Regions from separate parts of the Homo sapiens genome. Here region 2 is linked to region 1. The links come from fine-mapping of genetic effects on gene expression. Tissue or cell type: whole blood. Region 1 holds a variant in brackets; the other region holds the start of a gene. Each region is shown on its reference strand, or each on the opposite one.

Region 1 (5,390 bases):
CACACAAGCAATAATAAAATAAGAATGAATAAGGTTATTAAGTGCAAAGAAGATAATGAGAGAGGGAGCCAAAGAAGGTCTGGGTTTCCTTGGCATGTGTGTGTAGGATACAGGCAATTGTAAATCTGTATCAAAAATCAAGCACAGCAGGAGGTGTTCGTCTCCCAGGTAATGGGTAAATGATGAGCAGATGAGCCATCCTTCTATTGATTTAAGCATTTTGTTTCAGCCAGTCACAATTAACTTTGATTTGTTTTTACTTTCCTCTTAAAGGTTTGCATTTAAAACACTCTTGGAGCACTAATTGTATAAAATTCTGGTAACTGCACATTCTCGTTTTAGAGAGGTAATGAGTGAATGAATGAAAAGGCAGGGATTATTTGCTATTCTGAGTGAGGATTGTCAGAGCATTTCTACTTGACTGAAATTGTTTTGGAAGGTGAGCTGGAACAGGAATCTTGCAACTAAAATGATGTGACTCTCCATGTGGTTTTTGGATGTTTCTTTATCAAAGAATTTTGCGGTATGGTTCTGGGACTTACAAGTTGATTAATAACTTTATTTATTTATGAGAGAATATTTAAGTGAATAATATGAAAACATTTTAAGGTATGCTTACTTGACTGAAGTAAATGAGAGTCTCTTGAAAGTTCATTTGAAAGGATTTGAAATGGGATTTTCCTCTTACCATCACAATATTTTTTCAAGATACAAATGGCCATGTTGTGACAAAATACATTATTGAAATGCTTTGAAAAGTTTTTAAAAACATGCCTAAGAAAACAATATGTAGACCATTACAGTTAATTCAGATATCAATTTATTAATATTGCTGCTACTGGAAAGTCCTAAAACGTACGGGACATCATTCCAAAACACTTGGGGTCTGTTTTAATAAGCAGCTCTTTCTCTGTTCTTGTTTGGAAGGGGCACTAGGGTTGCCAGATTTAGTAAACAAAAATAAAGATTGCCCGGTTAAATCTGAATGTCTAATAACTAATGAATTTTTTTAGGATAAGAATGTCCCATGCAATGTTTGTATTTTATCTGGCAACCTTAGGTAGTACTTTGGTTGGATAGAAATTACAGCCATGCATTGAATATGTGACTGAATACTGAGAAATTATTATTTTAAAATGATTTTACCTTTTACTGTCAGACCAGATAGGCCAACCAGCTTGCCCCCTTCAAATAGAAACCAAAAGCTTTTTAGCTCCTTAATGCTGAGTTTAATTTCCCGTATCATGTTCCTAGGGTAAGTTGTGACTTGTCATTTTCAGTATACTGTGACATCAGCCTGACTAATATAGAGACATTAGAGAAGATGGAAGAGTGTAGCTTACATCGATCAGGCTTTGACTAGAATGTTCGGTGATTATAGGTGTAGAGAATTGAATGATGCAATGATATATTATGTTAGTGAAGCCACATCTTTTTTGTGGCAGTATTTTGACTATATAGGTAGCCAAGTTTAAAATCCTTGTGATTCTAACCCTGGTAAGAACTTCTGGGAGGGGAAAGATTCTATGTCCTTGCACTTTTATTTTGTTTCATTTAACTTTGGTTACAATAATCTAGTGGCTAGATTAATAATAATCTAGAAACTAAGCCAAAGCTTCCAGAAAACCAAATATCTGATTTATCTTTGGGGCCAGCATTCACTTTTGCTAGTAGCATTTTTCACTTTCTGATGCTTTCCATGGCTTATCAGGAGGCCTATTTGTAGAAGAGAAGTTTGGAGCCCCATGCCCCCTACTGATTTCACTATAGCTTTAGAGGACAGTTCCTAGGAAACCTAGGCTGGGCCTGGGTGGTCCCACCTCTAGAACACTTTGTGAATCATCCCAATTTCTGCCTCAGAGCCTTCTCCCAGGCTGCAGAAGCCTGCTTCATGATTCCTCCCTCAGGCCTAGCATGGAAATATAGGGGGAATTAACACCTGCCAGGGCAATCTTTGTGATAAGTATTCCCGCCAACGATTTTTTGAACAGGCAATTCTGAAAAGCACTAGGCATTCTCAGAGGTCCTATTTTCAACAGCAGGAATCTTAGGTACCCTTTAGGAACATTATTTGGCTTTTCCTCCAGCCCTTCCTTATTCCCGCTATTCCCGCCCTCTCATTTCTAGGGAAAACTAACATGCATCTTATTCCTTGTTTCAGGCTCTGCTTTTAGTGGAACCCTAGCTAAGATACTCCTGATGCTCTTTTCTCCCCAGCACCACGGTTCTCTCCTTGCTCTAGATCTAGATATTTTGCTTCCTGTGGTTCCATCAAGATTTACATTTTTTTCCCTTATCAGTGGAAGAGAGTTCTGCCACTGTATCTACTGGTACT[T/G]CTAAGTCATATTGGTTACCAAATGCATCATGCACATTTTCCTCACCCAAACTCTCCTCTTTATAATGAAAACAATTATTGAATGCCCACTACATGTGAGAATATATGCTAAAGGTTCCATGCAGATTGTTTCATTTTATCCTCATGACGTCACCAAAAAAATAAGTATTTCTACCTTACAGATGAAAAAACTGAGGTTCAGGGTGATTAAGGGATTTTTACCAATATCACAAAGCTAGTAAGTGGCAGAAGCAGCATTGCATTCTGACATATCTGACACCAAAGACCATTGTTTTAACCATGACATCATAAATTCCACCATATAAAGATGTTAGAAATGAGTTTCTTTGTCAAATACTAATATGCATGGCTAAAGAGATAATTGAGTAGAAGGCTGGGATGAGAGAGCTTGTATCAAATACAGCAAACTTTTTTTGTTTTTTAAAAAAAGGTCTTCATATCTGCTTATAATTGAACACAAGTTCTGAAGTATTGGTTCCATCATGAGACCTGGAACTCCATAAACCTATGTCTGTTCTGGTTCACAGTGCCTTATACATGGTAGGACTTAATAAATATGCACTGAATGAACTAATTGGAGTATCACAGAATATAGCTTAAAATGACCTCAGTGAGCTCAAAGTTTCAGTGATTCACTTTATTAAACAATTGACTGTAACCTCTTTCAAGATGATCTGTTACTTGGAAATTTAAAATCCCAGTAGTGTCTTATGTAATGTAAGACAAAGTGTTTAGAACAATGTTATAATGTGGCTCTCAATTAAATATGTTAACTTCAGCTAATTTAAAACTATTGGGAGCAAAGGGAGGCAGAAAGATTCCATCTGATGTTACAATAGGCACATACTTAGAGAGGTCTGGGAGTGCTGGGTGCAGAGGTCAAATGTAGTAAACGTGAACTTCTGTGGAGACAGGGAGAGGCTACCCAGTAGTCAAAAGAAGATCTGGTCTCCACGTGGAAAACAGTGGCAGAGTTAGTAACCCTTCTTTATGATTTAGCTTGGCAAAGTGAGGACCCATGACAGCTCTTTCTGTCTGATTCTCCCTATTTTGACAAAATTAATGTATTTCATAAATATTAAAATTCTGAAGTCCTTAGGAACTGACTGCAGCTACATTTTTAGATCAATTCTCTAAATCTAGCATATTTATCTAATTGCATCCCTTGAAGTAGAGTCAGAGGTTCACCATGCAAATCTTCCCTGACATTTTATTGATAGAACCACTATTCTCTTCAAACTGCCATGATGTTAGAGGTCTGACTCTATGACATCTTCTGAAACTTTCATGAGGTTGTTAGTTTTGAACAATAAAGAAAGATGAGCATATGCAATTTCTACTTGTGCTTTGTGGGTTACTCTTGGGTTTCATAGGCAACTTTAGTAACTAGTTAGCCCCTTAAGAGTGAAAGCAGAAACTGTAGCAGCCCTATGTAATTGTCACTAGAAGAATTGACACCACCAGTGAAAAATAAGAAAGTCAGATGTAACTTGATCTTTTCAGGGTCACCAATAGGAGCTAGGTAACAAACAAAAGTAGGTTTTGTTTGTTGCATTACAAGATAGTAAACGAGAGCTCTGATGGTCTGCAATTCAACATGCTGGATGGGAAAATACTTTTAGGCAGATTCGATATGAACTAAAAAAATCTTAACATGTCTGTAATGCTAAAATTCTACTCAGAGGATTTTTTTTAGTTGGTTGTGCAAGTGAACCAAATTTGTCTTCGCCTACAGATGAAATTATTTTGATTAGCTGAATCCTAATGAATAATTTAAAATGTAAACAATAGAAAATAATACAATTGTTATATGTTTATTTATATAGCAGCTACTATGTATGGATCTTAATTAGGATTAGGATTTATAAATTAGTGCAGCTGAGATGAGAATGAATATAAATTACACAACTGATCCTGCTGGAAAAATTAAGATTCACATATACCTTTACATATCTAATGCTAACAGTGGGAACAGACTCCATTCAGAATGTTTCTCTGATCAAACTTAGAAAAGTCTAGGGCATTTTCTCTCAAAATGCCTGAAATCATATCTAATAGTCAATGCCTTGGTCTGTGTATAAGCTTAAATTACATAAAAATAATAAAATTTATAATCTTAAATTACATAAAAATTATAACTTTAAATTATATAAAATTATAAAAATTCAATTATCTTAAATTATAAACATGCATATGTGAACTAAGACGTATTCAATATCTTCATTAGGCAGACTTTTGTGGCTTTTAACTTTCACTGACGGAAGCATTCTCTTCTTTGTATTAATGCCAAACACCATTTGAACCAGAATTCTTTTTGGTTTTTGGATCCAAAAAGACAGAGTCTGATGAAGCCACATCCTTTTATAGCTGGGAGAAACATATTTTCTTCTTACACATATATTGTCTGTAACTGTTGGCAGGGTTGGAACTACTATCAGAAGTTAGGAATAGAGGTGTTATAGATCCCCATCAGCCACTATTCTAATACCAATGAGGCCTTGGGATATAGCCTGACATACATGTGAGATAGCCATCCCTTCTCACCTTTAAACCTGAGGCTCAGGAAAATTGCTTCAACCCTGTCAAGTAAGGATGACCTTACTTGAGAATATTGGCTCTTCTATCCATTTAGAAGCATATTGAGGCCAGGTGTGGTGGCACACACCTACTGTAATCCCAGCAGTTTGGGAGGCTGAGGTGGGAGGATGGCTTGAGCTCCTGAGGTTGAAGCTTCAATGAGCCCTGATTGTGCCACTGCACTCCAACCTGGGTGACTCAAAACAAACAAACAAACAAACAAACAAACAAACAAACAGAGCATATGGAGAATAGTGGACTCTTTCATGATCTTCAATCTTTATAAACGACTTTTTGTTGCCCTTTTGACTACTTTGCAAGTCAAGATTGACTTTGATGTAGAAAAGTATCCAGCTCTTCCTCATTTGAATGATAAGTGGCATAGTCCTACACATCAATAGGTTCCATTAATTATTTCACAATTTCTGTTATAATTGTCTCTTTCTTTTCAGTTCCA
Region 2 (5,390 bases), not on the chromosome of region 1:
AATCCATGTGCACTTAATCACAAAGTGTAGACTCAATGAATAAAGACATCTTTATCTATCTATCTGTCAATCAATCATCTATCTATCTGGTCATGAGCATGTGCTCTTAAGACATATTGCCAGGTTCAAATTCTAATTCCTTTACATAGCAACTGTGTGCCCTGGGACAAGTTACTTAACCTCTCATGCTTTGATTTCCTTATTCTTAACTACATAGAGTTGGTAGTAGGAGGAAAATAGATAGGACATGTTGCATAGTTAGCCTTGTATTTGATCCTCAGGGAGAGATCAACATTTGTTAGGTACATAAATATCACGAGCAGACAGGCATTTTGCACTTTCATCGTTTCATATTCAATTTTATATGGACCTCACCTTGTTTTAGAGAACTTTGAGAGTGAGAAGGAAGCCAGCAGATTGATTTGGTTTTTCTGCTTCCCAGTTTTGGAGAAGGACATAAAGGCTAACACACTGTATAGGCTGAGCCTTGATCCTCCCTCTGCCAGGCACGTCCCGAAACACAAAAGTTCCTGCCCAAAGCCTCTCACGCTGGATCCAGTTGCAGGGGCACCTCACAGTCCTCAGGCCCTGTAGCTCATGTACAGCCATTTGTTTCATTTTTCCACTGCTACAAAATGAAATATAGATTAAGGCTCCCAACATCAAATAACAGGTCCAAGTTTGGGCATAGTGATACTCTTTGTGTATTGAGCATTCCTGTACCCAGAATCAGAAGCAAGAACTGAAATTTAGACACGCCCTATTGATTTCAGTGAACGTGTGTTCCTGATGTGGACAGGCTGGGTATGAGAAATTAGTAGCAGCCCACTCCACCCAGATAATGGATATGAAACTTGAAGGACTTTTTTTTTTATATATAAGATAAAAAACCTGTGGCATTCAACTGTGTATCAGCCCGTTCTTCCAGGGAGGAATAGAGCTCTTGTTTAATGTTAGTGTTAATGTGTTCCTTCTGTGTTCTTGTTCTGTTCTTTTGGGTACCTGTAGTTATATGCTATGGAAATTAGGGTATGGCTTTTTCTTTCCGATGCTGTTAATGGTTTGCTTTTTTGGGGTGGGGGTGGGCTGGGAAGATGGGTAGTTTGGTTGCTTTTTAGGCTTTAATGAGCTGCTTTTATTGGACTGCTACATTTTTGCTGTTACTGCTACCAAAGCACTTCCTTTATTTCAATACCGGGCACTTAAGCAAAAGCTTTAGAATGATAAATCCAAAGTTTCAGAAAGCTTTAGAAATGAAAGTGGCCTCCCTAACTCCAAAGCTTATACTCTTCGAACTAGGAATAGTACCTCTCGATGAGCCCTGCTCCATCTCCCATCTAAGTAGGAGCTATTTAGATAACGACTTCAGAGGAAGCCTTTAAATAGACTATTTGAGTCATGGTAAAATGACTCTCTCTGAGGGACAATTTGATTGTAGGTTCACTGTCCTAGGAAAAAGGAACCCAAATTTCCCCTGGCAAAGTCTCAACAAACTGGTAAAGTAGAATCTTTCCCCGTCTCTTCCAGGGCTTAGGGCTTCAAATATTGCCCTCTGACAGCACCTTAAAAACTACATCTTCCCTATTTCCTCCTCCTTCTCTTCTCCAATCCTATCCAACAACTTTCTGCATTCTGTTCTTTCCTGATTATGCTCTCTTCTTTGTGACTGTGGAGAGGATTGAGATTGCGTAGATATATTAAACTAGCATAAGATGTTGTTTATCAAATTAAACATACTATGTAGGTTGACAATAACTTTAATCCAGTCAAAATTCATATTTCTCCTATAAGTCTTTAATAAATAATGATAATAAAGAAGACAAAAAATGTATTTATTGACCATATTTCACATGTCAGATGCTGTGCAATGCATTTTACTTCTTTTTTATCTTATTAAATCTCATAATATAACCATGACCTGGATACCATTATTGTCCCTATTATACAGGTAACCTTCAATCACATAAAAATTAGGAACATTTGAATTCAGAGCTTAAAACACAAACAACTTGTACTTTTCAAAATAACTTGCTGTTACCTTTAAGGTCTGTCATTAAAACATAGCATGTCCTGGGCTCAGTACCTAATCTTTCTTATCTGAAACTTAAATTCCTATTTATTAACCTTTTTAGCCCTATATTTTCTAATTCCATAGAAAACTAAAGGTTTTGGTTAGATCTTCATGTGGAATGACTGGTTTCATTCAATAGACTTAATTCAGCAGTCTGTGGGGAAGAGCAAGGTATGATAGAATGGTTCCTCAAGTGCTTCAGATGTGAAGTGGGTTTAAATATACTGTCCCTGTCTTCTTCAGAGTTTTGGTAAAGATAAAATAGGACACTCATTTAAAAGCAATCTTTGCAAATGACAAGCCACTATAGACATTAATAGAGTTTTCATTTCCAGTATTATCATTAATATCAGATCCTGGAAGAAGGTTGAGCCTTGACCTAGAGCAAAAAAACAGAAGAATTAGTAAAGGAATCCTGGAGAAAGCCCCTGCTGTGTATTTAAAGGAGAAAGGGAGATCATGTTGGGAAATTATAATATTAAAAGTAAACAAAAGCTAGGAAGTAAAATAAAATAAATTATATGGCCTAGATCCCCATAAGTAATGGTTTAACTTCTGCCTTCCTGTGTTCTGAGCCAGATTAGGGCACAGTAGAGAAAGAGGAGTCTCTGAAAATGTTTCCAATTTCGCTGGTCAGACAGCGGATCATCAGTGAATCAGATGAAAATTTGTGGATTTATGCACTAACTGATCAGCAGGAAATTAAACAAGAAAAGCGTTGGTAGCTCTGGTGAATCCCAAAAGAATTTGGCAGTTGCTAGCCATGCTCCTGAATATGTATAAACAGTACATCATATGACTAAGAGTTTGACTTAGGGGTTAGATTTTATGTGTTTGAACCCCAAATTAGTTATTTAATAGTTGGCACCCCAAAACAAGTTACTTAACCTCACTAAGATTCAGTTTTCCTGTTTATAAAATGTAGATAGTGATAGTATGTACTTTATAGGATTATTGTGAAAAATAAATGAAATATCAGATTTATTTAGGATAACACCTGGCATATGTTTGGTATTCAGTAATTAGTTGCTGCTGTTTTATTCTGCTCTCCCTTGCATCCCACTTTTCTAAGTTGTAAACTAAATAGTTGTACACAGATTGACAGATTAAGAAAGGCTTGTGATTGTGCTAGACCTATGCCTCTCTCTCACCAGATTCCAGGTGTATATGTGGAGGTGGGATAGGGAGTGGAGTAAGTGGGTAAATATTAAATTGCCCAGTTGGGCACCATCCTGAATATTATCTCTAAAGAAAGAAGCAAAACCAGGCACAGCTGATGGGTTAACCAGATATGATACAGAAAACATTTCCTTCTGCTTTTTGGTTTTAAGCCTATATTTGAAGCCTTAGATCTCTCCAGCACAGTAAGCACCAGGAGTCCATGAAGAAGATGGCTCCTGCCATGGAATCCCCTACTCTACTGTGTGTAGCCTTACTGTTCTTCGGTAAGTAGAGATTCAATTACCCCTCCCAGGGAGGCCCAAATGAATTTGGGGAGCAGCTGGGGTAGGAACCTTTACTGTGGGTGGTGACTTTTTCTAGGACATGTGCAAACTATTGGGCATTTCCCAGGGACTCTGTAGTGGAGCCAAGCTAGAAAGCAGAGGCAAGTGGGCTGAGCAACACCTAAGGAGGAAGCCAGACTGAAAGCTTGGTTCCTTGCATTTGCTCTGGCATCTTCCAGAGTGCAAATTTCCTACCAAGGAAATGAGGGTAGAGGAGAGAAAGAAGCTCTTTCTTCCCCTGATTCTGATTCCTGAAAAGACGGTTGGTCCTTAAAATTCCATGGATGTAGATCTTATCCCCACACCCAGATTCTAGTCCTCTGGAGATAAAGAAGACTGCTGGACACTAATGTATCCTCTCTGGACTTTTGCAGCTCCAGATGGCGTGTTAGCAGGTGAGTCCTCTGTTCTTGTTCCCTTGGTGTTTCAACATGTCTGGGCATTGCTTTCCTCTCACTATTTTCTTCGTCCCATCACTTCTGCTTTCTAATGAGCATGAATCTGTTCCTTGGCCAGACTACTTTCCCTCTCCACCTTGCCTTGTCTTTCTTTTTTTCCCTGATTCATTGCATTCTCTCAAGTCATTCTCTCCTCTGTTTTAGTCAATAACCATGTCTGTTGCACATATACATGTCTCATTCTCTCTCCTAGACACTTTGGCATGATCTCGCTCAATAATTACATTATTATTATTATTGCCATTTTATAATTGAGGATGCTGAAACTCAGTGATTTTCTGGTGGTTACATGGCTAAGGAACTGGATTTCAACGTAAGTTCCTTGGATCTAAGTCCAGTTCTCTTCTGACTATATCACCCTTTTGTTATCACCATGTATCTACTTCTTTGGTCTCTGTTCAAATTTGCACTACATCCCCTTGTTCCAGGAAGCCATTCAAGACTGACTTTCTTAGTGCCTCTCACTACTTTCTGGAACTGACATATGTTTTTCACTCTGTATATACTTACAATTAAATAGTCATAAATATTCAGAGCTTGGAGAAACCTTATATTTCATCCAGTCCAGTAAATTTATCCATCCATAATTCACTCATTCATTCACATAATAAATATTTAATGTAACAATGGTTGAACATGGCAGACAGTGTTTCTACCTCAAAAGAGATTGCAGTCCTCATTTACAGATACTGAATTGAAATTAACAGAAGTAGAGTGAGTCAGCTCAAATCACATAGTGAATTGGTTTCTTTGTTTTTAAATCTCCTGCATATGTGTCCTGTCTTTCTCCCTGTGTTGGGCGTTCCCTGGGGCACCAATACTAATTTCTCCTTCCCCTAGAAATCAAAACAGGGTCTTATCACCAACAGAATAAGGACAGGTTGACCACTGATTGTCAGAATATTGCTTCGTTTGTACTTTTAAGCCTAGACAGTTTTCAATGACTTTTTTTCTCTCTACATGTCTTTTCATATTTTTATCTTCTTGAAGTCCCTCAGAAACCTAAGGTCTCCTTGAACCCTCCATGGAATAGAATATTTAAAGGAGAGAATGTGACTCTTACATGTAATGGGAACAATTTCTTTGAAGTCAGTTCCACCAAATGGTTCCACAATGGCAGCCTTTCAGAAGAGACAAATTCAAGTTTGAATATTGTGAATGCCAAATTTGAAGACAGTGGAGAATACAAATGTCAGCACCAACAAGTTAATGAGAGTGAACCTGTGTACCTGGAAGTCTTCAGTGGTAAGTTCCAGGGATATGGAAATACAGATCTCTCATGTGAGGGATGGCTCATCTGAAGATGGGAAAAAACAGGTTATTCCAAGGGTTAGGACACCAGAGTGGGATTCAAGG

The links.
Region 2: FCER1A starts here. The variant in region 1 is fine-mapped to the expression of FCER1A in whole blood (TOPMed, PIP above 0.99).

What each region holds. Positions count from the first base shown.
Region 1 is chr2:144,569,486-144,574,875 of GRCh38, forward strand. The region is part of intron 2 of LINC01412 (long intergenic non-protein coding RNA 1412); the gene reads left to right. Among named protein-coding and RNA genes, the nearest start is that of LINC02993, 48 kb to the left of the region's middle. The variant T/G (reference allele first, on the strand shown) is at 2,336.
Region 2 is chr1:159,298,904-159,304,293 of GRCh38, forward strand. FCER1A (Fc epsilon receptor Ia) reads left to right here and starts at 3,433. Exons shown (of 5, transcript NM_001387280.1): 1 at 3,433-3,516; 2 at 3,951-3,971; 3 at 5,025-5,279. The coding sequence starts at 3,462.